Linked DNA regions of Homo sapiens. The protein of the gene in region 6 interacts with the protein of the main gene of each other region in a pairwise test. Each region holds a gene or a part of one and is shown on either strand. Other genes may lie near its edges. The genes, in order: KIFC3, SDCCAG8, DPPA2, PLEKHG7, RABL2B, FGFR3 and FCHSD2.

Region 1 (3,500 bases), on a different chromosome or scaffold from region 6:
AACCCGGGAGGTGGAGGTTGCAGTGAGCCAAGATCGCACCACTGCACTCCAGCCTGGGCAACAGAGAGAGGCCCTGTCTCAAAAAAAAAAAAAAAAAAAAAAAAAAACAAAAAAGCCCAAAAAAACAGAATGTGTGTAAGGCCTGAAAAGCACTTGGCCCAGTGGCTGGCACTCGGGATATTGTTACGCCCCAGGGTAGTGGCTCTGCAGTGTGCCTCATGACTCGTGAGGCTGGCCCCCATCCCACCCTGTTCAGCCCTGCAGGTGGAGGTGGGTGGCTGGGGCATTGCTGCCACAGCCCGCCCTCTCTCCCATGGGTGAGGGAGGCGGTGTGTCAGAGGCACAAGGGGATGCACGTTAGCTGGTTCTGAATACGCTTGGGGAGGCAACGGAGGCTGGGCCACCTGGTTTGGATTTTGTCTTAATGAAGTCAGGGAAGAAATTGCCACCTAGAGGCAGCCGGGGTAATAAAGCCATAGCCCCTGTGCAAGTCCTCAAAGCTTCATGCAGGCTGGCTGGCAATGGCTTCCTTCCACTTCCCTGCTGAGCAGATGCCTGCCCCAAAAGCCACTGTGGGGATAGGGGAGCCTCCGGTGGGGTATTGGGCCCCTTCCAGAAGAGAATCTTTGGGCGGCTTTTGGTAAGGAAGGAGCGTAGCCACTGCCCCGAGCCAGGCCTTCCCCTCTGCAGGGCAGGCGTTTTTTGGGTGTGTGAGCCCCTCCTGGCCACATCTGGACCAGCCAGGGATGTGTGAAAGCTGAGCTCAGCTGCGGCCCTGGCCAGTGGTCCATGGCTAGCAGTCTTTGGCCAGTGGTCGGAGTGTCTCACCTATCTCTCTGTCCTGGGACAGGGCGTGGAAAAGATACCCCAGTCTGCGGTGACGAGGACTCCAGTGCCCGAAGTGCAGCTCGCCCAGCCCTAGCTCAGTGCCGAGCCCTTAGCGTGGACTGGGCTGGCCCCGGAAGCCCCCACGGGCTCTACCTGACCCTGCAGGTAAGCACTGGGGCCTTCCAGGCTGCATGTGCCTTGGCTCTCTGAGCTCCAGTGGCTGGGTTCCTGCCAGGCTTCTGGGGGTAGGAAGCACCTGGGGAGAGCCGGGGACCCACCTCGCACCTCTCTGTTGGGCCCCTCATGACCCCTCTGCCTGGGAGCCTGCTTTATTAAGTCAGACGGGAAATCTCATAGGAGCTGACAGGAGCTTTTCAGCCATGCCCTGGCTGAGGTGTTAAAATGGGAAGCATGGGGCCTTAGCTGAGATGGGCAGAGCTTGGAGAAGGTATTGGGAAAACAGGCAGGTTTGGGGTGGTTGATTATTCTGAAACATGGTTATGTGAGTATTTCCTTGTATTTCCTTGGGAATATTTCCTTGTTTGAAGTGAGAATTCAAAGCTAGATGGAGGATTCACTAAAACTTGGGGTCTTCTCCCTTGCAGTTATCACCAAGTGACTTTAAAATGACAAAGTAAGGCTAGGCGCGGTGGCTCAGGCCTGTAATCTCACCACTTTGGGAGGCTGAGATAGGAGGATCGCTTGAGCCCAGGAGTTCACGACCAGCCTGGACAATATAGTGAGACCCTATCTCTACAAAAAGAAAAATAAAAAATTAGCTGGGCATGGTGGTTCCTATAGTCCCAGCTACTCAGGAGGCTGGGGTGGGAGGATCGCTTGAGCCCAGGAGGTTGAGGCTGCAGTGATTGCACCACTGCACTCCAGCCTGCGTGACAGAGTGAGACCCTGTCTCAAAAAAAAAAAAAGAAAAGAAAAAAGATAAACTTTACATATGTATGTATATTTGGCTATAGAAATAATACATAACGATAATAGTAATAAGAGCTACTGTTTATCAAACATGGACTCTGTGCCAGGCATTAAAAGATCTCATGTTAGTCCTCATCATACTCATAACAATCTCAGGATACAGTATTTGATCTGAGCTTTATAGATGAGGATGTGGAGGCTCAGAGAGGTTAAGTTACTCGCTGCTGGTCACATATTCGACCATTCAACACAACTAGCCTTGTAACAGGGCAGAGATACAGTTATCCAGAAACTGCCTCTCTTAGTCCTCTATCTTTGAGAAATCCACTATTAAGTATTTGGTGTTTATTTGTTTATCTTTCCTATATAGAACCACTTAATTAAATTTATATGATTTTTATTTTTGAGATGGAGTCTCGTTCACTCTGTTGCCCAGGCTGGAGTGCAGTGGCGTGATCTTGGCTGTAATATCCGCCTCCCGGGTTCAAGTGATTCTCCTACCTCAGCCTCCTGAGTAGCTGGGATTACAGGTGTGCATCATCACACCTGGCTAATTTTTATATTTTTAGTAGAGATAAGGTTTCACCATTTCACCATGTTGGCCAGGCTGGTCTTGAACTCTTTTTTTGTTTTTTTTTTTTGAGACAGAGTCTCGCTCTGTCGCCCAGGCTGGAGTGCAATGGCATGATCTCAGCTCACTGCAGCCTCCGCCTCCCGGATTCCAGTGATTCTCCTGTCTCAGCCTCCCAAGTAGCTGGGATTACAGGCGTGTGCCACCGTGCCCAGCTAATGTTTGTATTTTTAGTAGAGACAGGGTTTCATCATGTTGGCCAGGCTGGTCTTGAACTCCTAACCTCGAGTGATCTGCCCGCCCCAGCCTCCCAAAGTGCTGGGATTACAGGTGTGAGCCAGTGCACCCAGCCATATTTATATGATTTTTTTTTTTTTGAGACAGAGTCTCACTCTGTTGCCCAGGTTGGAGTGCAGTGGCATGATTGCAGCCCACTGCAACCTTCACCTCCCAGGTTCAAGCGATTCTCATGCCTCAGCCTCCCGAATAGCTGGACTACAGGCATGTGCCACCACACCTGGCTAATTTTTGTATTTTTAGTAGAGATGGGGTTTCACCATGTTGGCCAGGCTGGTCTTGAACTCCTTACCTCAAGTGATCTACCCGCCTCAACCTCCCAAAGTGCTGGGATTACAGGCATGAGCCACAGTTCCCAGTGCATATTTATATGATTTTTATTATTTATTTTACATGTTATTCTGTCACTAGCTCTTTCCCTCAAGTAAGTCCTGGTAATCTCTTCATGCTCATCAACACATAGAGAACTACCCTTTTTTTTTTTTTTTTTTTTTTTTTTTGAGCAAGGTCTGGCTCTGTTGCCCAGGCTGGAATGCAGTGGTAGAATCTCACTGCAACCTCCAGCCAAGTCATCTCACCTCAGCCTCCTGAGTAGCTGGGACTACTGGCATGTGCCACCACACCTGGCTAATTTTTGTAATTTTTGTAGAGACGGAGGTTTCATCATGTTGCCCAGGCTGGTCCCGAACTTGTGGGCTCTGCCTTGGCTTCCCAAAGTGCTGGGATTACAGATGTGAGCCATTACGCCCGGCCCTACCTCTTTCTTTTACACGGCTGCGTAATAGTCTACTTCAGGGCTTACCATAAATTATTTATAACAGATCCTCTGTATTGTTTCTGATTGCAGTGAGCTCCTTAAACAAATATCTGTGCT
Region 2 (4,324 bases), on a different chromosome or scaffold from region 6:
GAACCCTAAAGTAGAGACACACTGCATTGAGGGGTCCAACGAAGAGATTTCAAAAAAACGCTAATGCTATTTTAGCTCTGTAGCATTCCTGGAACTGACTGTTAATGTATAGCTTACCTTATCCTAAAATAGTTTGTAAAATCATATACCCATCACATAATTTTTTTTTTAAAGGATGAGGAAATCAGGAAAAGGTAAAACAAGGGTCAACCAGTTAAACAAAGCCAGAGGAAAGCTTGAAATGAGGCACAGTGTCTGTTTCTCAGCCACTCTCTTTCTCAGCACAGCAGACATTTTAAATGATAATCAAGTACCAGCTATCATGGCAGAATAAAATAAAATAGAGCTTTGGTTTTTTGGTATATTTAAGAAATTTAAAAACCAAAGTAACTCTAATTAAATGAATTATCTGTCCTGAGTAGAAATCAAACAATTATAATCATCCTCCATTAATAGCAATAGGTTCAGAAGATAGGCAAATATAAATTACTACTATGAGTATACAGGAGGAAGTCAATGTGAAAAATAAAAAGCTCAAGCCAATATTGTATGAAAAATGTTCACATGAAATCATTTGTGTCTACTTTGAAGGGCTTTAGTTTAGATATCTACATTTTAAGACAATAAGTAATAACTTTTTTTCCATCTCAACAGTGCCTCAGTTTTACTCTCAATATATGCATGTATTTCTAATATGTTATACTGGCTATGAAAGTGCATTCTAAAGGTATAATCTTAAAAAGCTAATTATTACTATTATGGTTTATAATTATTACATGTAGGCTGTATACATATAGAGTCTAAGTTCCATTCTTTTACATAGCTCCATATAAATAGACTTGTGTATTTTAAAGTGCACTCTGTATGTACTAAACTGATTCTCTTAGTGAAGGTCTTCCTGCCTGTCTGGATTCAGTAAGCTCCATAATATCACTGCTCAGACTTTAAAAGGCAAATAAGCATGTCTGAGCATTCAACAGATAAAGCAACTTCATCTAGTAGATTTAAAAGCATTCCACCAGTCTGTGCTTAAGAGCAAGCTAGAAACCAGATGTCAATAGTAATAAATTCATTAAATGATGAGATGTTTTACTAAAATTATAAAATCTGTATCTATAAATTTAGAATATGCATATGAAGTACATTTCTCTAAAGTAGGAATTAAGCTTAAAAGTATGTGTCAGCCTGGAATGGAGTGTTCGTATGGGAGTGATACTCTGATATTTCAGTGGTGAAGAAAAGAAAGTGACATGTCTCCACACTTTTCAGCATACAGGCATTGTATTGAACTAGAAAACACATTGAAAATGTGAGGTGGTTACTTGCTGCTATGCATGTTATGTTTATGTAACACTTCATAGGTTTCTAAAGAATTTTAAGTATGTAATCTTATCTCATTATTCCAAAAACTCTGTGAGACAGGCACAATATCTTAGAGAGTATGTGATAGACCCTAGATAGAACTAAGCCCTTGACTATTATTTTGTCCACTTAAATCTGGTCCAGAGTGCTTTCACTCACATCTATCTCAGCCTTTAGCATATAAAATGCTTTAATCAGAAATAATACACTCTGTCAAAGCAATAACAAACAACTTCAGAAGAAATACAGCACCACTTCTTATATATCATACTATTTTATAACCATATATTTTAACATATAGAACATTACATATTAAAACGTATTATTTTGAGGCCAGGCGCGGTGGCTCACACCTATAATCCCGGTGCTTTGGGAGGCCGAGGCTGATGGATTTCCTGAGGTTCAGAGTTCGAGACCAGCCTAGCCAATATGGTGAAACCCCATCTCTACTAAAAATACAAAAAATTAGCCTGGTGTGGTAGTGCACATCTGTAAACCCAAATACTAGGGAGGCTGAGGCAGGAGAATCGCTTGAACCAGGGAGGCAGAGGTTGTAGTGAGGCGAGATCATGCCACTGCACTCTAGCCTGAGCAACAGAATGAGACTCTGTCTCAAAAAAATTAATTAATTAATTAAAAATAAAATGTATTATTTTGACACTCAAAATTTAAAAAATATTACAAAGTAGGGCTACAATTATAATTAAGTAACTTCTAAAAATGATCAATAATAGATATGACCCTCTAAAAAAGAAATTACTAAAATAATGACTTTATCTTTTACATATATTCTGACATATAATTTATTATATTAATTTATTATATATTATATATTTATATTACATATTTTGCTAACAGTTGCAAAATAAATTCTCCAAACTATTCCCTTGCTCCCATTTTCCAAGTGAATAATAAATTTAAAAAATCAAGATTCCCTCTGCCATGGAAATCTATTTTTTCAGCCAAAATAATCAGAGGGAAGAGAATTACTTTTAATGTTTTTCACTATTAGTATGCCATGCTTAAATTTTTTCTGCAACATGTACTACAAAATAACACAATACAGTAAAACACAGGAATGCTTTGTCAACTTGGAAAAGTTGATACTTACCAAGGGGGACATTTTTCTTCTTCTTGACGGAGATACTTCACTTTCCTTATCTGCTTGTTGGCGCAACAAATCTTTGAGCTGATTAACTATAGAGCAAAAGCAGAGGGTTTATTAACCTTATTTGAGATCCATGGTTTCTTACCACCCATCCATCCTTCCAACTAATAAAAATTGCTGATATATTATGCATCAAGAATTCTGCTATCAACTGGGGATACAAGACCAACATAAAAAAAAAAAAAGAATTTCTACCCCTTAAGAGCTAAGAATCTAGCAAGGAAGAGAGAGACACTAATAGATATAAAATAAGTTTGTATGTAGACCTAAAGCTATGCACAGTGCTACAAGAAGAGGAAGAAGCTAATTGTGCTTGTTTTCACAGAGGAGATAACACTGCAAGGATAAACAGGAAGGAGTTCACCAAGCAGAAAAGGATAAGAAAAATTCCAGTTAGAAGTCACTGCACATGTCAAAGCATAAAAGCATAGAGAGGAGGTTATTATAACTAGAATATGAGTTGTGAGATGGATGATTAGCATGAGAAGTACACAAAGATGAGCCGAAGAGGCAGGTTAGAGCTATCTTAGGAAAACACTGTTATTTTATAACTAAGAATTTTGGACTTTAGCCTATAAGCATTGGGAAGTCAAAGGAAAACAAGATTAAGCGAGGGAATTAAATTATCTGATTTGTGTTTGAGGAATAACATCATAGCAGCAGAATGAAGAATGAATGGAGTTATTATTCTACGGAGTTTAAAAAATTCACTATGCATCATTCAGACTAGGATTGACATTCACACTCACCAGCATGGCTCTGTTGTAATTCGGGCCAGGCTGTCCTGGCGTCCTCATTTCCCACACTGGTGCTAAAAGAAAGATTTGGTGCATCTTCTCCAATAGTGACATCGCCTTCTTTCAGGGCACATGTCAGTTGGTGAATGCTTCTGCTGGCATGTTCTGCAAGAACAACCTGACGAAAGTTAGGACCCATGGAGTCTGGTTGACCAAACGGACACTTACTCAGGAAGGCAGTTTTTAAAGGTGAAATCATTATTTCTCGTACTTTATGGAAAAAACGCAGAGTTCTGTTTCTAGCTTGCTGAGGGATGTGCCAAAGATGGTGAGAGAAGATTAACTTCATGGTTTAGAGGTAGGACTTGATGATCTCTAAGGCCCCTACCACTGTAGCAGTTGATTTCACTACATATAGCACCACCGGCAAGGATTAAATGACAGAACTCTTCCCACCAGCTCCCATTAAACAATAACTTGCTAAGGGAAGTGCTCTCCTTCCCACCATGCCTGACTCCTTTACCAACTTGGAGACAGAGGGGGACGAAAGGAGCAGTGGGGAGGTGGGAAGAGCCAGCAAAAGGGACTGCGTCACACCCAGTTCCAACCTAGGGAAGCCTCATTGTCCCTGGGGACAGGAAATCCCTCCCCCACCAAGAGACATCCACATGTCTGGCCTAGTTTTGATCAAAATTTGCATAGCTGAAGTGCTTATAGTGGCAGCCCCGGCGGTACAGCTCTTTCTATATACTGCTGGCCAACCACACCTCATAGATTCTTGGTTAGTGCAACTGACCACCCCTAGAACACACAAAAACTGTCTAAAATGAAGTATTTTAAGGTATATTACTGTGATAGTTCATCTCTAAAAATAGCCTCCAAGGGGTTGCAGCGAGCCGAGATCGCACCACTGCACTCCAGCCTGGCAAGAGAGCGAGACTGTTTCAGAAAAAAAAAAAAAAAAAAATAGCCTCCAAGGAACCCAGCCTCATTCCCTTGTTCTCTTCTAATCTGAAACTGACTGGGCCTGTAATCTGCATTAACCAATAGAATGCAA
Region 3 (5,043 bases), on a different chromosome or scaffold from region 6:
CCACACTGGGCTCATTTCAGCTCCAAGACCTGAGGAGAGTGTATCTGTTTTACTCTCTGTTGCTTTCACAGAAACACAGCAGTCTACACAGAGTAGGCATTCAATGTTGTTTTTATGATCTGATGAATAAAAGATAAAGTAGAAAAGCAGGTAGATAGAAAGAAACTAACATTTACTGGTTCTCTACAGTACACAGGCACTATGCTAGGTGTTCTTTATTTCTCAAATTTAATTCTCATAGTATACTTGTAGTAATTTATTAATTTTCCTGCTTTACAAATGAGGAAACTAAATGAGCAATGCCATAGAGTAACACAGGCTTGAGTATGGTTCTGAAGTTAGCTTTTCTTCTCAAATCCAAGGGTGAATAAACTCCATTCCAGTCCTATTGCAATATTCTCTTCTAGTGCTGATGCCACACTCCTGTCTCCTATTTAACCTCTTCAGTAGTTTCCCATTACTCTTAGTTTACTTCAAAATAACACTGACATTATTTAGGGAATACTACTCTATTACAGAGAAAAGTAGGGGCTCAAAGCAGCTATGTGACTTCCCCATAATCATATAGCTAATATTGGCCAATTCAGTCCTTTAGCCAGAGGACGGGTACAGTGATGCCTGTAAATACACTATGACACCTCCTCTAGTTTCTCATAGAGCCAGGACTACCCAAGCCTAATCTTGAAACTCATTTGGTACCAAGGCCACTGGGAGTAGATATTTCCTACTCTGAAAGAAAGTAACCAATTGGTCACTTTACTTTATGACTTTATCCACATTACCGCCTTCACTTTCTTTTCACCTTTGCTTTTAAAAAAAAACTTATTTTTAATTTTTAATTATCTTTTCTCTAATATTATTATTCTCCATGCCATTTTTATTTATTTATTTTTACCATTTTTATCTTGTCCAGCTATAGCACTTCTCATCTTTCCTACCAAAGAAATATTTTCCTTTGGACTAAGAGGAGAAAATTTTACTTCTTTTTACTCTCATCCAAATGCACATAAAAGCACAATCACATGAAAGAAAACTAACAATCTATTTGCAAAGAAGAGGAGGTTTCAAGATGGAGATTTCTTACATCCAGGAATGAAGATTTGTGGTAAAAGAGAAACATAAGGGAGACCTAGAAAGACTCTGAAAAGCGACTGTGAGAAAAGTAATTCTATTAGAATGAAACTTACCTTCTTGCTGCTATCCAAATTTGCATCTGACATTTTCAGCAACACCCTGGGGAAGGCAAGGACAGCAATGTTAAGGATATGGTAGTTTACTTCTCTTAACCTGCTTTCTCCTTTTATAAGCAAATGTTTCCTTCTACTTCCTGTTACCCAGATGAGCTCTTGTTTTCCTTTCCTCCTCTTTTTGCCCTCCCTCATTTTCTGGTAATGGGATAATTTTATCAATTTTATACCCTGTCTTGTCCATTCAGTGACAATGTTTTTTTAAAAATTAGGCTGGGTGCGATGGCTCATGCCTGTAATCCCAGCACTTTGGGAGGCCCAGGGGGGGCGGATCGATTGAGTCCAGGAGTTCGAGATCAGCCTGGGAAACATGGCGAGACCCCCATTTCTACAAAAAAACACAAAAATTAGGCGGGCGTTGTGGCGAGCGCCTGTAATCCCACCTACTCGGGAGGGGTTGGTGGGAGGACTGCTTGAGCCCAGGAGGCGCAGGTTACAGCGATCCGAGATCGCACCACTGCACTCCAGCTTCGCGAGACTCTGTCTCAACAAGTGAAAGAAGGAAAGAAAGAAGAAAAAAAAATAGGTGAAACTTGAAAGAAAACTGAAAATGACAAACACTTGTTGACAAGTTCCAATGGAATGAACAGAATGTTTTAGAACAGTTATAAGACGATATTGGTAACAAATTACTTATTACGAAGGGAATGGAAAAAAGATTCAGAGCATTTTACGCAGGTATTTTATACCTGATTTATGCACGGGGGTATGTTACTCACTGAAAGATTCCAGATTTAAATTGTGGGGGTTGGATAACATAATCTCTCTTCGATCTAGTTCTAAATACAAATATTAAGCCTGCAATAATATTGAGCTGGTTGGAGGAGAAGGATTTGGCTGTTCAGAATAGCAACAAGAGCCAAAACACCAAGGCAAGTGGTGGAGTAACGAAGGCAGAAGGAACGATGCACTTAGGAATTGCTGGAGCCTAATGTTGGACACGGAATGTGGCAAAATATGAAGCAGGTGTTCTCATAGGTCACTCTAAGAAGCCAGAGCAACTAAAGGAAATTTCATTCACCAATAATATGGCAGCACTGGACAACCAAGTACCTTTACAATGGGCTTTTTCTGTCCCTGGGAAAATGATTTGGTCCATTAATCTCAGGACCCAGGGTGACCATGGTCCATTTAAGTTACTAGTGTATTTAACACATTCAAAATATTGTCTGGACCTGGCACGGTGGCTCATGTCTGTAATCCTTTGGGAGGCCTTTGGGAGGCCGAGGAAGGACGACCACTTGAGTCCAGAAGTTCGAGACCAGCCTGGGCAATATAGTGAGACCTCATCTCTATGAATAAATAAATAAATAAATAAATTTACAAAAGAAAAAAATGTAGTCTGAAAAAGCTCAGCTTCAGTTTACTGAGGAACTGATTGGAAAAATAAATTATGAGGCCCCACCCCACCACCCAAGACATCCTGAATCAGATCATGGAGGGTGAGGCTGAGGGGCTGAGGAATCTGTGCTTCCACAAGCCCTCCAGGTAATTTTTTCTTTTTTTCTTTTTTTAGACAGGCTCTGACGCCCAGGCTGGAGTGCGGTGGCGCGATCATAGCTCACTGCAGCCTCGACCTCCTGGACTCAAGCGATCTTCCCACTACAGCCCATGCCGTCCCACCCCCGCCCCTCCCCCCACACTCCAGTAGTTGGGATTACAGGCCCGCGCCACCACGCCCCGCTAATATTTAAATTTTTTGTAGAGAGGAGACCTGGGATGGAAGGAGATTGCGGGGACGGAGAGGATGTGGGTAGGGGGCCTCACTGTGTTGCCCAGGCTGGTCTTGAATTCCTGGCTGAGTTCCCAGACTCAAGTTGATCCTCCCTCCGCAGCCTTCGGAGTGGGTGGGACTACAGGCCTGCACCGCCACGCCCAGCCCTCCGGACGATTCTTAAGCTCCTGAAGTCTAGAAGCCTTAGCTAGATCAGGCCATAAACAAAGGGCTTTGGAGACAGGCAGTCCGCGGCAGATAATGATCGGAATTCCGGCTCCTCCCTTCCAGGGTGGAACCTGAATGCAGCCCTCTAAGATGCAGCCAGGAAAGCACTCCGCCTACCCGGTTGGGTGTGGCCCCTGGTGCTTTGAATGGGCAATTTAGAGGAAAGCTGACCTAATGGCCTGAGTTGATCCTAATGCCTTAGGTAGGGACAGGATTTCGAGTGGGAAGACCATTTCATTACCATGTTTTCTTTTCTTCATTGCATTTTTTACAATATAATCATTTTAGGCCGGGCGCGGTGGCTCACGTCTGTAATCCCAGCACTTTGGGAGGCGGAGGCGGGCGGATCACCTGAGGTCAGGAGTTCAAGACCAGTCTGGCTAACATGGCGAAACCCCGTCTCTACTAAAAATACAAAAATTCGCCGGGCATGGTGGCACATGCCTGTAATCCGAGCTACTAGGGAGACTGAGGCAGAACAATCGCTTGAACCCGGGAGGCGGAGGTTGCGGTGAGCCGAGATTGCGCCATTGCACTCCAGCCTGGGCAACAAGAGCGAAACTCCGTCTCAAAAAAAAAAAAAAAGTAAGAAAATCTATGAAAATCTATGGGAAGAATCTATATTGGAATAGCTTAGGGAAACTTTAGAGAAGATTACACTTTTTGAGGAAGAGCTTACCAGTCGTGGAAGTAGTCAATACAAACAGGGAACAGACTCCCTAGCTACTCGGGAGTCTGAGGCACGAGAATCGCTTGAACCCAGGAGGTGGAGATTGCAGTGAGCCAAGATCACGCCACTGCACTCCAGCCTGGGCGACAGAGAGAGACTCTGTCCCCCCAAAAAAAAAAAAAAAAAAATCTTATTTGTTTTCCTGGGGTTTTTTCCCCAGCTTTTTGAGAATGTTTTATTATGGGAAGGTTCAAACATGTACAAAAGTGTGTCTACTTTTTGTCATAGTAATTTACTTACAGCCAGTCTGGTTACATCTAAATTGCCGTCCATTCCTCCTCCATGGGTTATTTTGAAACAAGTGCCAGATCGCCTATGATTTCGTTCATAAATTCAGGGAAAAGGCCGGTGCCATGGCTCACACCTGTAATCTCAGCACGTCAGGAGGCCGAGGTGGCAGGAACAGTTGAGCCCAAGAGTATGAGACCAGCCTCGGCAAGATAGTGAGATCTCATTGTTACCAAAAAAATAAAAATGAAAATAAAAATAAAATAACCGGGCGTGTGGGTGTGGTGAGACATGCCTGTGGTCCTAGCTACTCAGGGGGCTGAGGTCAGAGGATCCCTTCAGCCCAGGAGCCCGAGGCTGCAGTGAGGCTGTCTCAATAAATAAATAAATAAATCCAGGGGGAAAAAATACTTCGTTCCTATTATAACTACGATATCCTTTTTACATCTAAACATAATTTAAAAAATCATTATTTAATATTATCAAAGTATTCAAATATATGTTATGTTCAAATATCCAGCAGTATTCAAAACTCCAATTATCTGGCTGGGCACCGTGGCTCACGCCTGTAATCCCAGCACTTTGGGAGGCCAAGGCAGGTGGATTACCTGATGTCAGGAGTTTGAGACCAGCCGGCCAACATGGAGAAACCCTGTCTGTACTAAAAATACAAAAATTAGCCAGGCATGGTGGCACGCACCTGTAGTTCCAGCTACTGGTGGGGGCTGAGGCAGGAGAATTGCTTGAACCCAGGTGGTGGATCTCAAAAAAAAACAACAAAAAAAAAACTCCATTTATCTTATATATTTTTCTCTTCCCTCATTTTCTTTTTTTTAACAATCTATTTGAATCAGCGTCCAATCAAGGTCTGTGATAAATTGAAATAGGCCTTAAAT
Region 4 (4,324 bases), on a different chromosome or scaffold from region 6:
GTCAACAGGCTAAGAAGGGAGTTATAGGTGCCCACCACCACACCCAGCTTATTTAAAGAAAAAATATTTTTAGTAGAGATGAGGTTTCACTATGTTGGCCAGGCTGATCTCAAACTCCTGACCTCAAGTGATCCGCCTGCCTGGCCCTTCCACAGTGCTGGGATTATAGGCATGAGCCATTGTGCCCAGCCTGACCTAGCTGTTCTTTTAAAATTTACCAAGACTATTTTTGTTATTTCCTCACAGATTTCATATGGCAATGGAAATTACCTTCACATCATTTTTTTGCAAATGGCTTCATGCATCCCATTGATCTGCCTTTATGTCTGCCGGCTCCATCTAATAATCAGAGCTGGACCCAGACTTTACCTGCTCTAGGAAACATTCCTTGATTTAAGACTCACAAATATACATATAGTACATCCACCCCTGGTGCCTTCTCTAACCAATTATTTACTCAAAATCTCCACTTAGATGTTTCATAGTTCCTCAAACTCAACATGTCCAAACCTGAACACAAGACCTACACTCTAACCACTCATATTTAATTTCTTTACCCAAGTTTATCTAGGTCAGTGAATGGACACCTTGGTTACCCAGTTGAACAAGCCAGAAGCTTGGAGGTCATTCTTGAAGATTCCTTTCCCTCACCCTGATAGGCTACCATTCACAAAGTCTGGGGGATTGTATCTCCTAAATATCTCTTGCATTGAGATACTTCTTTTTAACCCCACTGCCTTCATCATAATCTAACTTAACAACTTCTCATACCTGAACATTCGAATTATTTGACTCAAGTCTACTTGCATCTAAATCCCAGGTATATCTGACATCCATCTGATCATATCAATTCATCAAATGGTTTCACACTGCTCTTAGGGTAAGGAATAAAATTTCTCAAAATCTTATTAAAATAATTCGACTCTAAACATAATTTTTTTTTCTAAGACTACCCTTTTCCACTTTCTTTGACACAACTGAACTAGATCTCATCTGAGAGCTTTATTCTGTTTCACATGTATGGAAGATTTACATTAACAGCCCCACTCTTCCCCATTCCTTACATCCATACACTTTGCCATGTAACATTTCAATGCTCTCCCACTGTTGGTAACATGTAATTCCCTGACGCTGAGTTCAACTGAGTGACTTGCTTTGGTCAATAAAATTAGACCAGATTCAGAGCCCAGGCTCCAAGAGGCCTTGCATGTTTCTACTTGTCCTCTTGAACCTCTCCCTTCACTGTATAAAGAATCTGCTTAATTGATCCCATGGACCCATGGGAGCCCTTTGATCCCATGAGCAGGATAAGGAACATTTGGAGTGGAACTGCTCAGCTAAACCCAGCCTAGACCAAGTCACCCCCAGGGAACACAGAGATTTATAAGAAACAATAACTGTCTGTTACTTTAAGTGGTTTTTTATCTAGCAACAGCTAGCTGATACACAGACATAACAATTTGCATTTCCCTATGGCTTGGTAAGTATCTTCTACCTTTGTTGGTACAATTAGGCCAACAAGGATTAAAATCAACAAAGAATGTGTACATGGATGTTATCCTTACTGCTATGAATATCAAACTATTGCTTGAGGATTGAGGTCCAGTAATAAAACAGCAGCTATTTCTCCAAAAAAATCCTCTGTGACTTTTCAAATGAAATGAGGGCTTTCCTGCCAATCCCACAAGTCAGGAAGATAAAATTGGGCATGGATCTTTCCCTTGCTGCTGCAGAAACTCTTCATCCCTGTCAGAGATGGCAGATCCATTGCTACAACCAGGGGGCCGTGCTGAAAGTTCAGAGCTGGTTTTGGAAATGACACAGTCTACTTCATTCTGGATAAGGGCACAGTCTGTCATAACAGGTTATTTTAAAGGTCACCCTAGATTTAACCAGGACATCTTGTTCCTTTCTTTTATCCTCCAAATTTTTCTTTGAAAAGCTGTTGCATATCTCTGGCCTTTCTATTTTCTCTACCAGACAAAACCTATTACTAAGTGGATGTTAATTAAGCCACAGGGCCAAGACATTGACAATTCAAAATGAAAACTATGACTGCATATGGCATTGTATCCTGCCCCCAAATGCTGTGCTCTTAAAGGGAGACTCTTGAAATGAAAACTCGTGCACCTATAAATGCGAAGAGTGACTTGAGTGCTATAAAACAAAGTGCACTGGTTAACACACCGTCAGCTTTGTTATGTCAGGACAGAAATAAAAATCTAATAGTAAATAGTCAACAGATGTCATAGCACCGGAGAAAATAAATGCATACACACCTGGATGGGTGCAATTCTTCTCCCTGAAATAAATTTTAAGAACATATGTTTTAGTCTTGCTCAAACCCATCCCAAACTCCAAAGCAAACATGTTGAAAGGAGAAACAATGAGCCCTCCTAGTTAAAACATGTTTTACATTTTGGTGGGATTGGAAATTTGAATAACTGGCTCTTTCTCCCCTTTTAAATCAGTGACACGACGTTGTCTTTAAATAGTGTGCATTTGCAAGAGGGCCCCCATTGCTCTCGGGTACCTGACAGACCATCGGTAAGCCTGGCCTTGGTGCATCCTTTCTCAAAGTGCCTCTAAGGACAGAAGAAAGTGAGCGAGATCATTTTCTTTCCTCCCCAGATTGCTGCCCTCCTTTCACTTAAGAGCCAATGCTTCCTAAAGAGAATGTGTCCCCTCAGTGTGACTTCCTGTGCTGTCTCCTTTTTAGGATCTACTGGCCCTTGGGGGAACTAAGCAACTCTGAGATCTATTTTGCTTTGTGGTTCAGCAACTGAGAGGCCGGAGGCTTAGAGCTGTGTTACCTGAGGACTAGGGTGTCGTAGGGTGGGGCTGGGCAGGAAGTGGCCTTCTTGCTGCCGAAGAGAGGCCTGGTGAAGGGACCCTTCATTGACAGGCTGAAGCTCAGGAGGGAGATACTTGTCAGTGGGCCGGGTTTGGGGCTCCAGTGAGTCAGCTGCATTCAGGGCCCTTTCAGGTTCAGAGGTCAATCTTGAGTGGAGTCTCAAGGGTGACAGCAAGTGTGAAGAATCCTTTGGGCTTCCTGGCAGGCTCTTCGAAAGGTAACATGGGAAGCCCACAGGAGCTCCCCAGCTTCCCCAGGTGGTCACCTGCCAGGCATCCTGCCTTGTCCCACAGCCACGGGTCCTTAATCTCCTCAAAGTGGGCGAGGTGGAGATGCGGCCTGGGGCTTGCCGGTCAAACTGGAGGAGACTCCCCTGGTTCTTTGGCAGGCTCCTCAGCGAGGGCCGAGGAGAGGCTCCACAGTCTTGGGGTGGCACCTCTGGACAGAATGACTCTGTTTTCTCCATAAAGCTAAGAGGTTCTACTGTTGGTAGAAGGTTCCAGAAGACGTATGAGTTGCTGTTCTCTGGATCACATGGAGGGTGCTCAATTTCTGCATCCAAGTGCCATGCTTCCTCTCGTAGTTCTTTTCCTTTTCCAGAGGAGAATGTCAAGCAGGTTATTGCATCTGTAGTGAGGAAGAGCAGACTGTGAAATATGTAGCAAATGAGGGAGACTGCAGTGAGAAAAAAGGTCTAAAATTTCAAAGGAAAACTTCTAATTCTTCATAGGCAATAGAGCTCAGTTCACATCAGCATCCTTTACGTTCAGAAGATAATTAATATACGTGACTCCAGCCTTCTCATCTAAATAGCGTATTGAAGTCTGTTTACTGTCTACTTAATATTCCTTCTAGGTTCAAACAAAAAAGCCTTTAAAAACTTTGGTAACTTAAGGTACTTCCTGGAAACCACATAGCTCCTCCCCTTGTGATTATTCCATTTTAAGAGAATCAAATATACATTAAATCCTCCTTATCATCTACATTTATGTATGTATGTACATATTGTGGTGCATTCTGGGGATGCAAGAACAAGGAAAACAAGCCTCCTTCCCTCAAGGTTTAAATTACAGAATGAGACAGGCTTTGAAGGTAACTGATGTAAAGTATCTGACAACGTCTTTTATCTTAGATTCTATCAATCTTTACATTTTGGAAAAAGGACTTGCAGGTTTGAAAAGAAAAACCCAGACATCACCAGGTACCCTACTGTTCATGATTGGAGGTGTTTTTTGCAATCTATGCATGCAGAATTATCTCTTCTCATGCTCAAGAAAAGCTGACCCTTCCATTTCACAGCTTGATTCATGGGAGTGGCTTATTGCAGTTTCGTTATTCTGTACTTTCCCACATGAAGAAGGTATGTGTGGGAAAACATCAATCCTTACACATCCCTTATGGCATGAGAGTTGATGCTTGATGATTTGCAGACCAGGTGTGGGACTGTGGGACAGGCGAGAGACCCATCTT
Region 5 (4,324 bases), on a different chromosome or scaffold from region 6:
CTTCTGCACTACACTGCCCCCATTTTCCTTGCCCCATCATCCTCTTGTTTAGTGCCTTAACAGTTATCAGAGTTAAAGCTTTTGGAATTTTTCAAGGGATTTTGTTCTCAAGGGGCAGTCGGGGGAATTAGGTGATGAGTTCCTTCCTTTACCATCTGCAAAGGGTCAGAAGGGAAGAATCCTCACTGTCCTCACCACTGGTATCTGTACTGTGCCTACCAGTCAGTCAGTTCCTGGGGGCAGCACGTGTGTCTTTCCACCTGGGCACTCCCAGCATCCTGCACACGTGCATCACAGACAGTCCATGTTGTGGAAGGGATCAGTGGTGCAGGAGCACACACGAAAGAGCTAAGCTAATGACAAACATCAGAGGAGGCTGCACGGAGGTGGTGGCATTGAAGCAGGGCCTGAAAAATGAGCAGAGTTTCAAATAAAGGGGTGTGAGCTGGGGAGAGGCTGAGGGAAGAGCATGAAGGAAGGTGTGCAGAGGAGCAGGTGACAATGAGCAGAACAGAGCAGCTCCTTCTGCATCCCCTCTGCTATTGCTTCTTACAGATGAGATGACACCTGCTCAGCCATGCATCTCTCTCAGTGCCAAGGTAAGGCCGTGCGTATTTACAGACAATCACTAAGTGGGAGGTAGGGCTAGAAAGGTGGGTGTCTAAATGCTATGGGGTGCCATGGCAGACTTTATTTTTTTTTTGAGACGGAGTCTCGCTCTGTCGCCGAGGCTGGAGTGCAGTGGCGTGATCTCGGCTCACTGCAAGCTCTGCCTCCCGGGTTCACGCCATTCTCCTGCCTCAGCCTCCCCAGTAGCTAGGACTACAGGCGCCCGCTACCACGCCCGGCTAATTTTTTTGTATTTTTAGTAGAGACGGGGTTTCACCGTGTTAGCCAGGATGGTCTCGATCTCCTAACCTCGTGATCCGCCCGCCTCGGCCTCCCAAAGTGCTGGGATTACAGGCGTGAGCCACCGCGCCCGGCCCGTGGCAGACTTTATTAATGTATGCCAACAATGGTGGCAACCTGTCCATCCCATGTGTTCTTTTAACCATATGATTCTGGTTCCCCACTGAGAGATGCCATCTGTTTCTTCCCTCTGTGACTATGGACAGAGAGATGCCACATATTCCAGGGCTAGGCCATAAAAGGAAATATAAGTCCCACCGGGTTCTCTTTGGATACTTGATCTTGGGATCTTGGCTGATACTCTGTGAGCAAACCCAAATCAGCCCAAATGACAAACTGCGAAGAAACACGGGGAGTAGAACCTGCTGGTGGTCCAGCCAAGTACCAGTGTGTGTGTGTGGGGAGATGCCCCAGGCAGTTCCAGCCTGGAACCCAGCCTTGGAGTCTTCTTAGCTGAGACTTCAGACATGGATTCCCGATCCATCAGAAAATGGTTGTTTTGTACCGCCAAGTTTTGGGGTTTTGTGTTAAAGCAAGACCTTGAATGCTATTCCAAGAAGTTTTAGTGACCAAGGTTTTCACTTGGTGACAATTGCTAGGGTTAATAATTCAGAAGACTAGTCTATTACTTTCTGCATTGTTGATGGCTGATATTCATGAAAATGTGGGTTTTTTTTAGATGGAGTTTTGCTCTTGTTGCCCAGGCTGGAGTGCAATGGTGTGATCTCGGCTCACTGCAACCTCTGCCTCCTGGGTTCAAATGATTCTCCTGCCTCAACCTCCCAAGTAGCTGGGATTACAGGCACCCGCCACCATGCCCGGCTAATTTTTTGTATTTTTAGTAGAGACGGGATTTCACCATGTTGGCCAGGCTGGTCTCAAACTGCTGACCTCAGGTGATCCACCCATCTTGGCCTCCCAAAGTGCTGGGATTACAGGCATGAGCCACCGTGCCCAGCCATGAAAATGTTTTTTAAGTGACCCAAAAGAAAAACATGCTCCTTTTCAGCATTTAAAAGTGGTGGCCTGAGAACCCAGCCAGGGAATTCACGGGTAGGAACTTCTACAGGACACAGGTATACAGAGCTCCTTTTTCCTTTCTCAGCCCTTTCCTCGGCTGCATTTTTCTCTTGGAGCGACTGCTTCACCACACCCGGGTCACCAGGGGGAGCCGTGAGGACTGCGTCCTGGGCAACACAATGGGAGGCTCGGGGGGAGGCGAGGGGCTGGCCTGAGAGAGAAGGTTCTCTGGGACCCGCAGCATCTACTCAGTCCCAGCGTGCGCCCCCTAGGGAAAGGCAGCAGGCAACAGTGGAGGGAGGCCTTGGGAGCTTGTCTGACAGGTTAGGTCCATCAGAGGGACGGTGGCCCTGTTTCAGGCATGTTTGCCTCTTGGATGCTACACCTGATGTTGAAGCCCTGAGCTTGCTGTTCCACCTTTTCTCCACCCATCCCCGCCTACAGAGAGCTCACCTGGCACCTTCTCACTAAGAAGCTCTGGGGAGCAGGTGTGGTTTGAAACATCCCCGGGTGACCCTAAGCCCCCCTCCCACAACACCCAGACTTGGTTACAAGGGCCCAGGGCTGCTAGGCCCCTCACCCCTCAGGCCAGACTTGCCCAGTGCCTTTGTCCACCTCCCCACCGTCTCGTACCATGATGCAGGCGTGGGCCTTGTGGTAGTAGGAGGCATGCATGCTCTGGAACCGCTCCTGGCCTGCCGTGTCCCAAAAGTCTGCAATGTGAACACAGACAGACCTACATGCCTGGTGCACTTCTGTGCAAGTCACTAAGATACAACACACATGCGGCACAAACCACAGCACATGTGTGAGTGTACATGGGGAGCACAGGGAGAAACAGAGACTATACAGCCCCACACGTGTGTCTTCAAGACACAGTGTACCTGAGTGTGATGTGAGAGGTGTGTCTTCACCTGTGTGTATGGGAAGACAGTGGGTCAGGGGCCAGGAGGAAGGACAACACACTGGAAGCCCAAGGAGGGAGAAGACAGTTCCCCGTTTCCCACGTGACACGCAGGGTCCTCTAAGTTCCAAACTATTCCAACTTCTCACGTGCGCTGACCACAGACGGTAGACAGAGTCAGGCAGGCTGTGTGCCCGGCCAAGGAGAAGATTATGACCCGATGGAAGGTCGCAGCCCGATGTGGGAGATAATGTTCTGACCACATTTATTTTTTCAAACTGGCTGAGTAACAACCCCTGAAGCTAGGAAAACTACTGCCTCGTCGAAGGCCTCTTACGTTCTTCTTCCCTGAGGTGGGTACAGCCCCCTGACTTCTCCTTTCCTGAACCCTGTCCTGCACAGGTGCTGGCCTGGACGCCAGGTCAGAGGGCTGGGACTTGGCCCCTGCATGCCCCCTTCCACCCTCCTGGCTCCTGGCTCTCTGGGTTCTCTCTAGCACCCCTTGTCCCTGCCTGGGGTCTCATTTTCTCCCTCTGGACTCTCTCCTTATGAACCTTCCCTCACCTCCCCTCGTCTCCCATTTCCTCTTTCCTGAGGGTCAGCATGTCTTGGCCCTGTGCCACTTACCCACAAGGATGGTCCTTCCATCTACCGTGGCTGTGTGCTTGTACAGGGTCAGGGCGTACGTGGACAGCTGCTGTGGCTGACTGCACTCAGGTTAAGGAGCAAAATCAATAAAAGGGGAGGTAAGGAAGGAGTGGGGAGCAGGGGTGTTTGGTTTGATGAAATGGATCCTCTCCCTCCTCTTCTCTTTGGAGTTATTGAGATTTTAAATCAAATGAATGTTGCAGACAGAGGATCAGCTTCACATATCACTGGTACAAACTCCATGGAAGGGTGAGGGGTGGGAGGAGATGGGAGTGTGTCCTGGCCATCGAAGTCTGAGGTAAAACACAGAACAGGATTTTACAGACAAGTGTCATAAAAGGCATCATGCAGTTGGAAAATGCAAATGTGGATACCCCAACTCAATCATGGATGGAGCTTTCGCAGGCTAGAAAGGAAACCCTAACCCTAGGTAGCAACATGACCATTCCAGGGACAAAAGCTCCCACAAGCCATACAGCTGACAAGCTGTCAATCAATTTGGAGTCTGTCTATGTGTGAAACCCTGAGAAAAAGGGTTAAACTCTGGGGATTAACAGCTTCCGAGGCTGCAAGAAGCCGGACAGTGTAAAAAGCAGAGCCAAATGACGCAGGTGGGCTGGGTGTGCAGGAGCACTTGGTACAAGGTGGAGTAACACATACTCAGATCTTAAGGCAACTGAGCCTTGGGGTGCCGAGCCTAGGACAGGCAGCAGCAGGCTCCAGGGGCTCCTCTCACCTGTGGTTCTCAGTGGATCCACTTGGGAAGCTGTTTAAAAATCTCCCAGTTGCGGGGAGGAACTCACTCCAAACCTATGTAATATAACAATTCATGGGAGAAAGGTG
Region 6 (4,324 bases):
TCAGCCTCGTCCTCCCCGTCTTCGTCATCTCCCGAGGATGGAGCGTCTGCAAGGCAGAGATGGCCGCAACCAATGCCCAACCTGCCCCAGGAGGCCCCCAGGTGCCCCTCCCAGATGGGGCAGGGTCCCCCATTTGGGCAGCACTTCCTGGGGGTGCCCTCCTCTCCACCAATGACCAGAGAGACCCCCAGCCGCTCCTGACCCACGCAGGGACTCAGGGAGCCCGGCACTCGGCTCCTTTCTGTAGCTGGCGTGGCCCCAGAGCTCACCTGTCACCCGCACACTGAAGTGGCACAGTACGCGCTGCGTGAGCCGCTGCCGGCAGCTGTAGGCCCCGGAGTCCTCGTGGGAGGCATTCAGCACCTGCAGCCGCTGGGGCCCCACCAGGACACGCTCCGAGGGCACCAGCCCTGTGCCATCCTTGACCCAGACAGTGGGCCCCATGGGACCACCCCCGGGCGGGGGACAGCTCAGCTCCACAGCATCCCCGCTGCCGAAGACCAACTGCTCCTGCTGGCCGGGCTCTGGGCCCGGGACTTCTGTGGGGAAGATGGGCAACCATGAGGCAGGCACCCCCAAACCCGGCACCGTTTACAGACACAGCAGTGGAAGCCTCGGCGGCCCTGAGTGAGGAAGGCTCTGACCCAGATCCAGGGTCCCACCAGACCAGGGGCTGGAAACTGTGTCCCAAAAGGGCCAAAGGTCTCTATCTTCAGCTTTGCCAACCAGTCTGTCCCAAGGACTCCGGTCTGCCTCGGTGTGACAGCCGCCTTCCCCACACAACCTGCAGCCAACCCCACAGCAGTGGCCCCATGATGCTTCACTCATGGACACGGAGAATTCAAATCTCAAAGTGTCACAAAATGTGACTCTTCGTTCTTTTAATTTGTTCAATTGCTTGGAAACATAAAATCCATGCTTGTCTCACAGGCGGCACCACGACGGGCAGGTGCTGCGGGCAAAGGGGACAGGCTGCCCTTTGCTGGCCTCTGACTGAAATGGAGCTCAGAGGGGGTGCCAGGGTTGGCCAGCCAGCCCCCTCGTGGTGCAGATTCACCCCAGGAGGGGTCCGTCCTCAGTAGCCCCCGCACCCCATATGAGCCTGAAAAGCAGTTCAGATGGACAGCCAGGGAACAGAACAGGCGAGAAGGAAGGAGGTGCAGGGTCACGTGGCCGTGTGGACGGTCTGGGGGGCGATGCGCGGGTTCACCGGTCAGAGCACAGGCCGGAGCAGCGCGAGGGGGCCGGGGCGGGGGTGGGGGCTCCTTGGGGTGGGCAAGGTTCTGTATCCTGCAGCTCCTATGGAAGCTCCACACGGCGGTCATGACGGAAAACATACCGAGAAGAGCAAAGTACAAACACGGCGCTGGGTCCGGCCAAGTGGGTCTCACAGGCCGGGGAGTGGGGAGGCCCAGGCGGGCCCTCAAGGGGGCCGGGGGGTGGAGTCCTGCTGCCTGCAGGGGGACTGGGGCCCCCTCACAGAGGACGACCAGGCTGGGGGCAGGAAGCTGTGAGAGCCAGGGCAGGTCAGCAGCCCTGGCCCCTCCCTGGGGGCTGAGAAGCTGGGGTGGGGGCCCACCCACAGGGGCAGATGTGCAGGTGGCCCCTGGGTCCCTCCCCAGTAGCTGCCCAGCTCCCCAGAGCCACCAAAGCCTGTGACCCAAGGACACACCATGGGCAGGGCTGGGGGGACAATCGCCCCTAGGCTTCCCTGCCAGGGCCAGACAATGCATGCAGGCAGGCGTCCCGGGCTTGGGGCCGGGACGGGGGTGGGTGGTCCCCCAGGCAGCCTCCTTCTTCAGACCCAGCTGGGCGGGTTGCGCCATCACTTGTCATTCTGCAGACGCGTGGCCTAGATTCGGGGGCCCAGCTGCCCACTCTGGCCACACCAGTCCCTGGCTGCCCGGCCAGGCCCTCTTCTGCCCAACCCACCTGATCCAGCCACACACGCCTAGTGCCCAGGGTGACCCTGCCAGCCAGAAGGGCCCACACTCATCCCCTGAAGCATCCGAAGGAGCCCTCGCCCCACCGGGACCCACAGCTCAAGGACTGCCCCTGTAGGGACCCCGCAGTCAGGGGGGCTCCTGGCCTGACCTCCAGCCCTCCGGTCCTGGCCAGTGTCTTGTGGGGACCACCCAGAGCTGGGAGCTGCTCGAGGCCCCCCAGAAGGCCGAGAACAGGCTGGTTATGGCAGCCTCAGCTGCAGGCCCTGGCCCAAGGGCAACAGCCGGTTGGTTCCGGTTTGGTCTGAGTGGCGACAACAGGTCAAGCCATCCACACAAGTATTTGCTTCAGCCTGGTCCAGCACGGGGGGACGGGGGACACAGCAGCCCCAGGCCAGCCACACCAGTGGCCATCTGCCCGTGTGTGGTGGGGAGGGTGCAGCCCTGACTGCCCCCCCCACTGCCTGCCTGCTAGGTGCCAGCAGAGGCCAGGGTACCCCAGCAGGGGCTGGGTGGCGAGCACCAGGTGAAGGACAGTGTGACACGGGGCATGAGTGGGTGCTATAAGTTCAGGGTCTGACTCCCACTGGGAAGTCAGCAGTTGGGTGGAGCCCCCATACCCCACCCAGCTGCCAGGCATGGGGAGAGCTATAGCCCCCCAGCAGCCCTAGGAAGGGTTCTTTCTTTCTTGATCCACAAAAGGGAGGCCCCACTGACACCACACAGACACTGGTGCCCAAACACGTTGGAGACAAAACTCCTGCTGTACCCAAGGCGGGGTAGGAGGCAACGCGTCCCACCTCCCACCCTTCTATGGATCCCACAACACGTGCTCCTGCCGGCGCCCCAACCCCACACAGTGCCGACCTCAACTTGGGCTCCACATGCCAACGACAGCCCTCTGCTGTGTCCCAGAGTCTCCACAACTCTGCCACTCACTGGTCCTGTACCTCAGTTTCCCCCACTGTGGCACAAAGTAAAAATCCCACCCCACAGGCCCAGGAGCTCAGGGAGGGCACCAGGCCCTGAAATGGCTGCAGGAGTGAGGGTAGGGGTGAGAGGCGCTCCCTGCCCTGGGTCTCTGGCCCCAAGACTGATGTCCATTAGGCAGGGTGCTGGGGACGGCCAAACTCTGGCCTGGGGAACCTTTCTCCAGGCTCTGGGTCTCTGCAGTGGAGGCCCAGTGCATGTGAGGGAGCATGGCTGAGAGGATGGGGGAGCCTTGCTCCATCATAAGCCCCTCGGGTTGACCCCAGAGAACAAGGATCAAATCCAGACTCGCTTCCGGAGCTGGCTGCCCCAGGGGTTTATTTGGGTTTTGGGGTGAGATGAGGGCCTGGGGTCAGGAAACAACACATTCTGGTTTCGGATGCACATGAAGTTCTCTGCAGCTCTCTGGGGTACAGGAGGTATTGCCAGGTAGGAGCTATAAAATAGCCTAAGAGGAGGGGGCCCCCAAAAGTCCAGCCTCCCTGTCTCCCCACCTGGAGTTTCACAATAAAGTCCGGAAAAAAGGGATCTGGAGGCTGGGCAGGCTAAAGAGGGCTTGCCAGGGTTATCTGGCCTAATCCTTCAAACAGCCTGCCATTATCGGTTCTCTTGGACAGGTAAGGAAACTGAGGTTCGAAGAGGGCACCCGAGCCTGAGCTGGCAGCCTAGAGGTCCAGGCTGACCCCTACCCCACCAAAGGTGGCTCCACTCCTGGCTCATTCACTCCTGAATCACTCAGGTGAGGGCTGCATGCCTCCCTAGATGAGGTGACTTTAGATCCCCGTCCTCCAGGAGACCCCAAGCCCCTGGGCTCCCACTCAAGCTCAGCTGTAACAAGGGGTGCCACAGCCCCAGATCTAGCCCCAAGTGAGACCTGAGGGCTGGGGAGCTGGGGGGTGGGTAACAAGGGGTTCCTAGGCTCACACAAGGACCTGGAGGCCAGGCTCAGCCCAGGTTAATGAACCACCCAGAGGCCCACGCGGCTCAAAGTCCAGCCCTGCAGAGGAGGAGTGGGGGAGGTTGCAGCCAGCACCTTCGGGAAAGGCCCTGCACCCCCAGACCCCTGCTGGGTGGGGTGGGACTGTGGGAGAGCCGACCTTGTGTACCTCCCTGCACCCTGGGGGGTCACTCCAGGTCCCAACCAGGAATACGGCCCCCTGGGGAGATGGGGGCTGTCCTGGCAGGGCCTGGGGTGGCCAGGGCAGTCCAGTGGCCAAAACCTTTCCCACCGCCCTTGACCCCTGCGAGCCAAGGCTCCATAATTTATGTTCCCGGGCAAGCGCCAGCCTAGACCTCAGTCCATTTCACGAGGTCTTTGTATTTTTACTGCCCGGCCCATCTTGTTAAGGAACCGGATTAAGTTTATTGACCGATCAACTCACTACCTGTTT
Region 7 (3,500 bases), on a different chromosome or scaffold from region 6:
CTTCTGTTTCCTTATGTAGCCAACATGATCTGATTAATTCTCAATCAGATGAGCAAAAGCCACTTGAAGAAAGATGAGAATCTTTGCCACATCCTTGTGGTCACAGTAATATACTGTACGAGTGCACATGATCAGTAATTTAGGGACTGTGCCCTGGAATGAGGCCTGTTCTTGAGTCTCATATAAAAACAGACCACTGTTAGGCATGAGGGCTGCCCCCCTCTTTGCTCCTAGGGTCCGCTAGGATTTGTGCTATGGTAGGAGAAATGACATAGAAAATGACAACAAAAAAAAAAGGCACGAAATATTCAAAACGTGGGAGGAGTCTACCAGGCCACCCAGTCACACATAATCCTCCTTGTTTTTTGCTCTGTTCAAGAGTCATCATCATGCAAAGGTGCCTAAAAAACAAGACTGGCCAAACTCCAAGCCTGGCCTTGATTGTAGCAGTAATGGATGGGCAAGCCCATCATCACACCAGTGTGATTTCCACATCTTCAATCTTCTCTGCTGGCCTTCGGTGATTCTGTGTAGGTGGAGGGGGAGCTGCCCGGACCTGAGCAGGAAACAATTACGTAGTTTGTCAGTCAGTTCCTGACTCAGTATCTGAAGCATCCCCAAAACCTAATCACTCATCTGTCCAAGGACATGGGCACCCTAGGGGTCTCAGAAATGTTGTGAGCACGTGCTTTCAACCTAGTCTTCACTATTTCCTACACTGAGAAGCAGTTGTTCTCAATGAAATATCAAGCCCACAAATCAGCTTCTTGCCTAGGCTAAAAACCTCATGGGCACAAGTCCTATGACTAAGATCCTAGCACATCCTCCAAAGCAAAGGTCTGGCTGGAAGCAAGGGAGAGCAATGCTTAGAGAAATGAAACATTTCAGTGTGTCTTGGGTAGAGAGTTACAAAAGAGAAGGCTAGAAAGGTAGGCTAGGGTTAAGTTGTGAAGGGCCTTGTTAAACCATGTTTAAACATCTGCTTTAAGAAGAAAAAAATAAATCTGTGCTTTATTCTGTAGGCAAAAGAGGAGTTTTTGGTGGATTTTAAGCAATATCAGATCTGCGAAAAGATGACTCAGGTAACAACTGGAGAAAGGATCAGAGGCAAGCAAGAGTCCAAGTAAGAAGGCAACTTAGGAGACTTTTGTAATCCTCTGAATGAGAGTTGACAATAGCCCAAACGAGGGTACTGGCAGTAGGGGAAGTAGAGAAGTGGAAAGATTTGCGAGCTCTCTGCAAGGTATACCTGGCAGGATTTGGGAATGACTGTGGGAGGCAGGGGCAGGAGGTATTAAGAATGATGCCAGAACACCAGTAGGATGGGGGTTCCATTTACCAAGATAGGCAATATGGGAGAAGGAACATGTCTGGAAGGGAACATAACTCATTTTTGCTGAGTTTTGGGGATCTGGGATATATAAACTGAGATATCCACACATCTGAAGCTCAAGAGAAGAGATCGGATTGGCAGTTATAAATCTGAGACTTGCTGGCATATAAATGGTTATCATAGCTGTGGAAGTAGATGAGGTCATTCGGCAAGAGTGCGTTCAACAACTTCAAGAGAAGCAGCCCAGTGACAGAACCATGAGAATTATCAGCAGAGACAGGTGGCGGCAAGGCTGCAAAGGTCCACAGAAAGGTAGGACCAGAGAGGAAGAAAGCAAACGAGGCAAATGTAGAGAAGCACATCAGCCCACTGCTCTCTCTTCCCACTCTTACCCACCAGTCCATCTTGCCACCACTTCTTTCTTGGATGCTGCTCCAGCCTCCTAATCGCTCCCTATATCCTTTCTGCCACCCTCCATCCATCCGCCTCTTAGCTGCCATAGCGATGCTTTAAAAATGCACCAGCCACAACACTGTCCAGCTTACCACTTTACAATGGCTTCCTGTCTCATTTGGGATAAAGACTCAAGTCCTTAAGAAGGCACTCAATACATATTTGCTGAATGAATGAAGCCAAAAGAAGCCAGTGGTAAAGGAATGGTATCAAAAGCTAATAGGGGTCAAGGAAAATAAAATTGCAAAGTATCCGACTGGATTACCGTGCAAGTTATGACCTTGGAGTACAGTGGTGGGTGGAATGCAGATGGCAGTAGAGTGAAGGGTGAGGAGAGGTAACTTTGCAATAATATATTCACCCGGAGAATAAACGCTCTTTAAGGCCATGAAGTTAGCTTATTATTTCATCTTGGTATTCCTCAAAGAGGCAAATAGAGGCCTGGAAAATTAAATGCTTACTGAAAAAAGTGTTTCACAATTAGCCCGCTTTAATGCTCATAAAGTTTGTTCTATTCTAAATCACTTTCATAGCCATCATCTTGCAATCTCACTGTGGCTCAGTGAAAAAAGTTCCAGTGTAGATTAAATGTCCCGAGATGAGTTGATTTCTATGGCCTTCCTTTTCAATAGCTCTTTTTACCTTCCCAAACCCAGTTCATCCTTGTTTGGCATAGTCAGTAACAACACAGGGGCCACGGGGAAACATTAATTCCTTACTTTCAATTTGGAAGAACTATGCATTCGATAATCCTGCAAGATCAGAGACTTACAGGTCGCAGTTTGCCATATGAGGTCTCAGGAGTATGCCTTGATGCCTGTGAGAATCCTGGTGACTCAGCATGAAGGCTTTTTTCTAAGGGAGAAAACCAAAGAAGCTCATTTTACTTGAGTTGTTGAGCAATAATGCTGATGCAAGGCTGGCATGGTGGCTTGAGCCTGTAATCCCAGCACTTTGGGATACTGAGGCGGGAGGATTACTTGAGGCCAGAAGTTCAAGGCTGCAGTGAGCTATGATCCCACCACTGCACTCCAGCCTGGGTGACAGAATAATACCCTTTGTCCAGAAAAAATACAAAAATTAGCTGTGTGTGGTGGTGCATGCCTGTATTCCTAGCTACTAGGGAGGCTGAGGCAGGAGGATCACTTGAGCCCAGGAATTGGTTGCTATGAGCCGTGATCATGCCACTGAACTCCAGCCTGGGTGTCCAGCCCAGGTGACAGAGACTCTGTCTCCAAAAAAAAAAAAAAAAAAAAAAAAGCAAATGCAGTTTTTTTTTGCCCTTCAGGCGAATATGTAGGTTTCTGAAGTGAAAATGCATTTAGACCCATGCCCAGGAGAACCCTTACCGTTTGCTGAAGGAGACCGGGGAAAGTACAGGGAGCTCCTCTTATCTGGGCTGGGGTAGGGGCTGCTGGGAGGCTGGTCGTACAACGGCAGTGGAGGCAGGGAGGCGTGTGGCTTGGGGGAAGGAGAGATCTGCAGCAAAGGGAAGCGAGGTTACCCGGTGCTCCCCTCCAGGAAGGAGAGCCTGGCTGCTTCTCTGACTGCTCTGTACTCATGCCTTTTCTCTAAAGCTAAGCTGATTGTTGAAACTTGTCAACCTCATTAGAGGCAACTGAGCATTAAATAACCACCTCAAGCTCCAATTTTGCATTGCACTTCACTTTTTCCTCTTACAGATCTCATCACATTACTGATTTTAGTTTATCTT

Evidence for each region.
Region 1: the proteins of FGFR3 (region 6) and KIFC3 interact in binary tests that used the Homo sapiens proteins (3 or more experiments, as listed by UniProt).
Region 2: the proteins of FGFR3 (region 6) and SDCCAG8 interact in binary tests that used the Homo sapiens proteins (3 or more experiments, as listed by UniProt).
Region 3: the proteins of FGFR3 (region 6) and DPPA2 interact in binary tests that used the Homo sapiens proteins (3 or more experiments, as listed by UniProt).
Region 4: the proteins of FGFR3 (region 6) and PLEKHG7 interact in binary tests that used the Homo sapiens proteins (3 or more experiments, as listed by UniProt).
Region 5: the proteins of FGFR3 (region 6) and RABL2B interact in binary tests that used the Homo sapiens proteins (3 or more experiments, as listed by UniProt).
Region 7: the proteins of FGFR3 (region 6) and FCHSD2 interact in binary tests that used the Homo sapiens proteins (3 or more experiments, as listed by UniProt).

Annotation. Positions count from the first base shown.
Region 1 is NC_000016.10:57,792,492-57,795,991, reverse strand, and holds part of KIFC3 (kinesin-like protein KIFC3), read left to right. Parts: intron 1-850; coding exon 851-993; intron 994-3,500. UniProt on the Homo sapiens protein: Minus-end microtubule-dependent motor protein. Involved in apically targeted transport. Required for zonula adherens maintenance.
Region 2 is NC_000001.11:243,269,213-243,273,536, reverse strand, and holds part of SDCCAG8 (serologically defined colon cancer antigen 8), read right to left. Parts: intron 3,446-4,324; exon of another isoform or gene 3,433-3,445; coding exon 3,280-3,432; intron 2,560-3,279; coding exon 2,474-2,559; intron 1-2,473. UniProt on the Homo sapiens protein: Plays a role in the establishment of cell polarity and epithelial lumen formation. Also plays an essential role in ciliogenesis and subsequent Hedgehog signaling pathway that requires the presence of intact primary cilia for pathway activation.
Region 3 is NC_000003.12:109,313,323-109,318,365, forward strand, and holds the start of DPPA2 (developmental pluripotency-associated protein 2), read right to left. Parts: upstream 3,196-5,043; 5' UTR 2,962-3,195; intron 2,415-2,961; exon of another isoform or gene 2,301-2,414; intron 1,659-2,300; exon of another isoform or gene 1,432-1,658; coding exon of another isoform or gene 1,418-1,431; intron 1,234-1,417; coding exon of another isoform or gene 1,221-1,233; coding exon 1,188-1,220; intron 1-1,187. UniProt on the Homo sapiens protein: Binds to target gene promoters, including NKX2-5 and SYCE1, but not GATA4, and may be involved in the maintenance of the active epigenetic status of these genes.
Region 4 is NC_000012.12:92,705,628-92,709,951, reverse strand, and holds part of PLEKHG7 (pleckstrin homology domain-containing family G member 7), read right to left. Parts: intron 3,482-4,324; coding exon of another isoform or gene 3,321-3,481; coding exon 2,814-3,320; coding exon of another isoform or gene 2,799-2,813; exon of another isoform or gene 2,303-2,798; coding exon 2,280-2,302; coding exon of another isoform or gene 2,237-2,279; exon of another isoform or gene 1,403-2,236; intron 1-1,402.
Region 5 is NC_000022.11:50,773,210-50,777,533, forward strand, and holds part of RABL2B (rab-like protein 2B), read right to left. Parts: intron 3,541-4,324; coding exon 3,461-3,540; intron 2,643-3,460; coding exon 2,563-2,642; intron 1-2,562. UniProt on the Homo sapiens protein: Small GTPase required for ciliation. Activated in a guanine nucleotide exchange factor (GEF)-independent manner via its intrinsic GDP for GTP nucleotide exchange ability.
Region 6 is NC_000004.12:1,795,469-1,799,792, reverse strand, and holds part of FGFR3 (fibroblast growth factor receptor 3 isoform 1 precursor), read right to left. Parts: intron 540-4,324; coding exon 270-539; intron 47-269; coding exon 1-46.
Region 7 is NC_000011.10:72,838,319-72,841,818, forward strand, and holds part of FCHSD2 (F-BAR and double SH3 domains protein 2), read right to left. Parts: intron 3,266-3,500; coding exon 3,136-3,265; intron 2,642-3,135; coding exon 2,559-2,641; intron 557-2,558; coding exon 473-556; 3' UTR 1-472. UniProt on the Homo sapiens protein: Adapter protein that plays a role in endocytosis via clathrin-coated pits. Contributes to the internalization of cell surface receptors, such as integrin ITGB1 and transferrin receptor.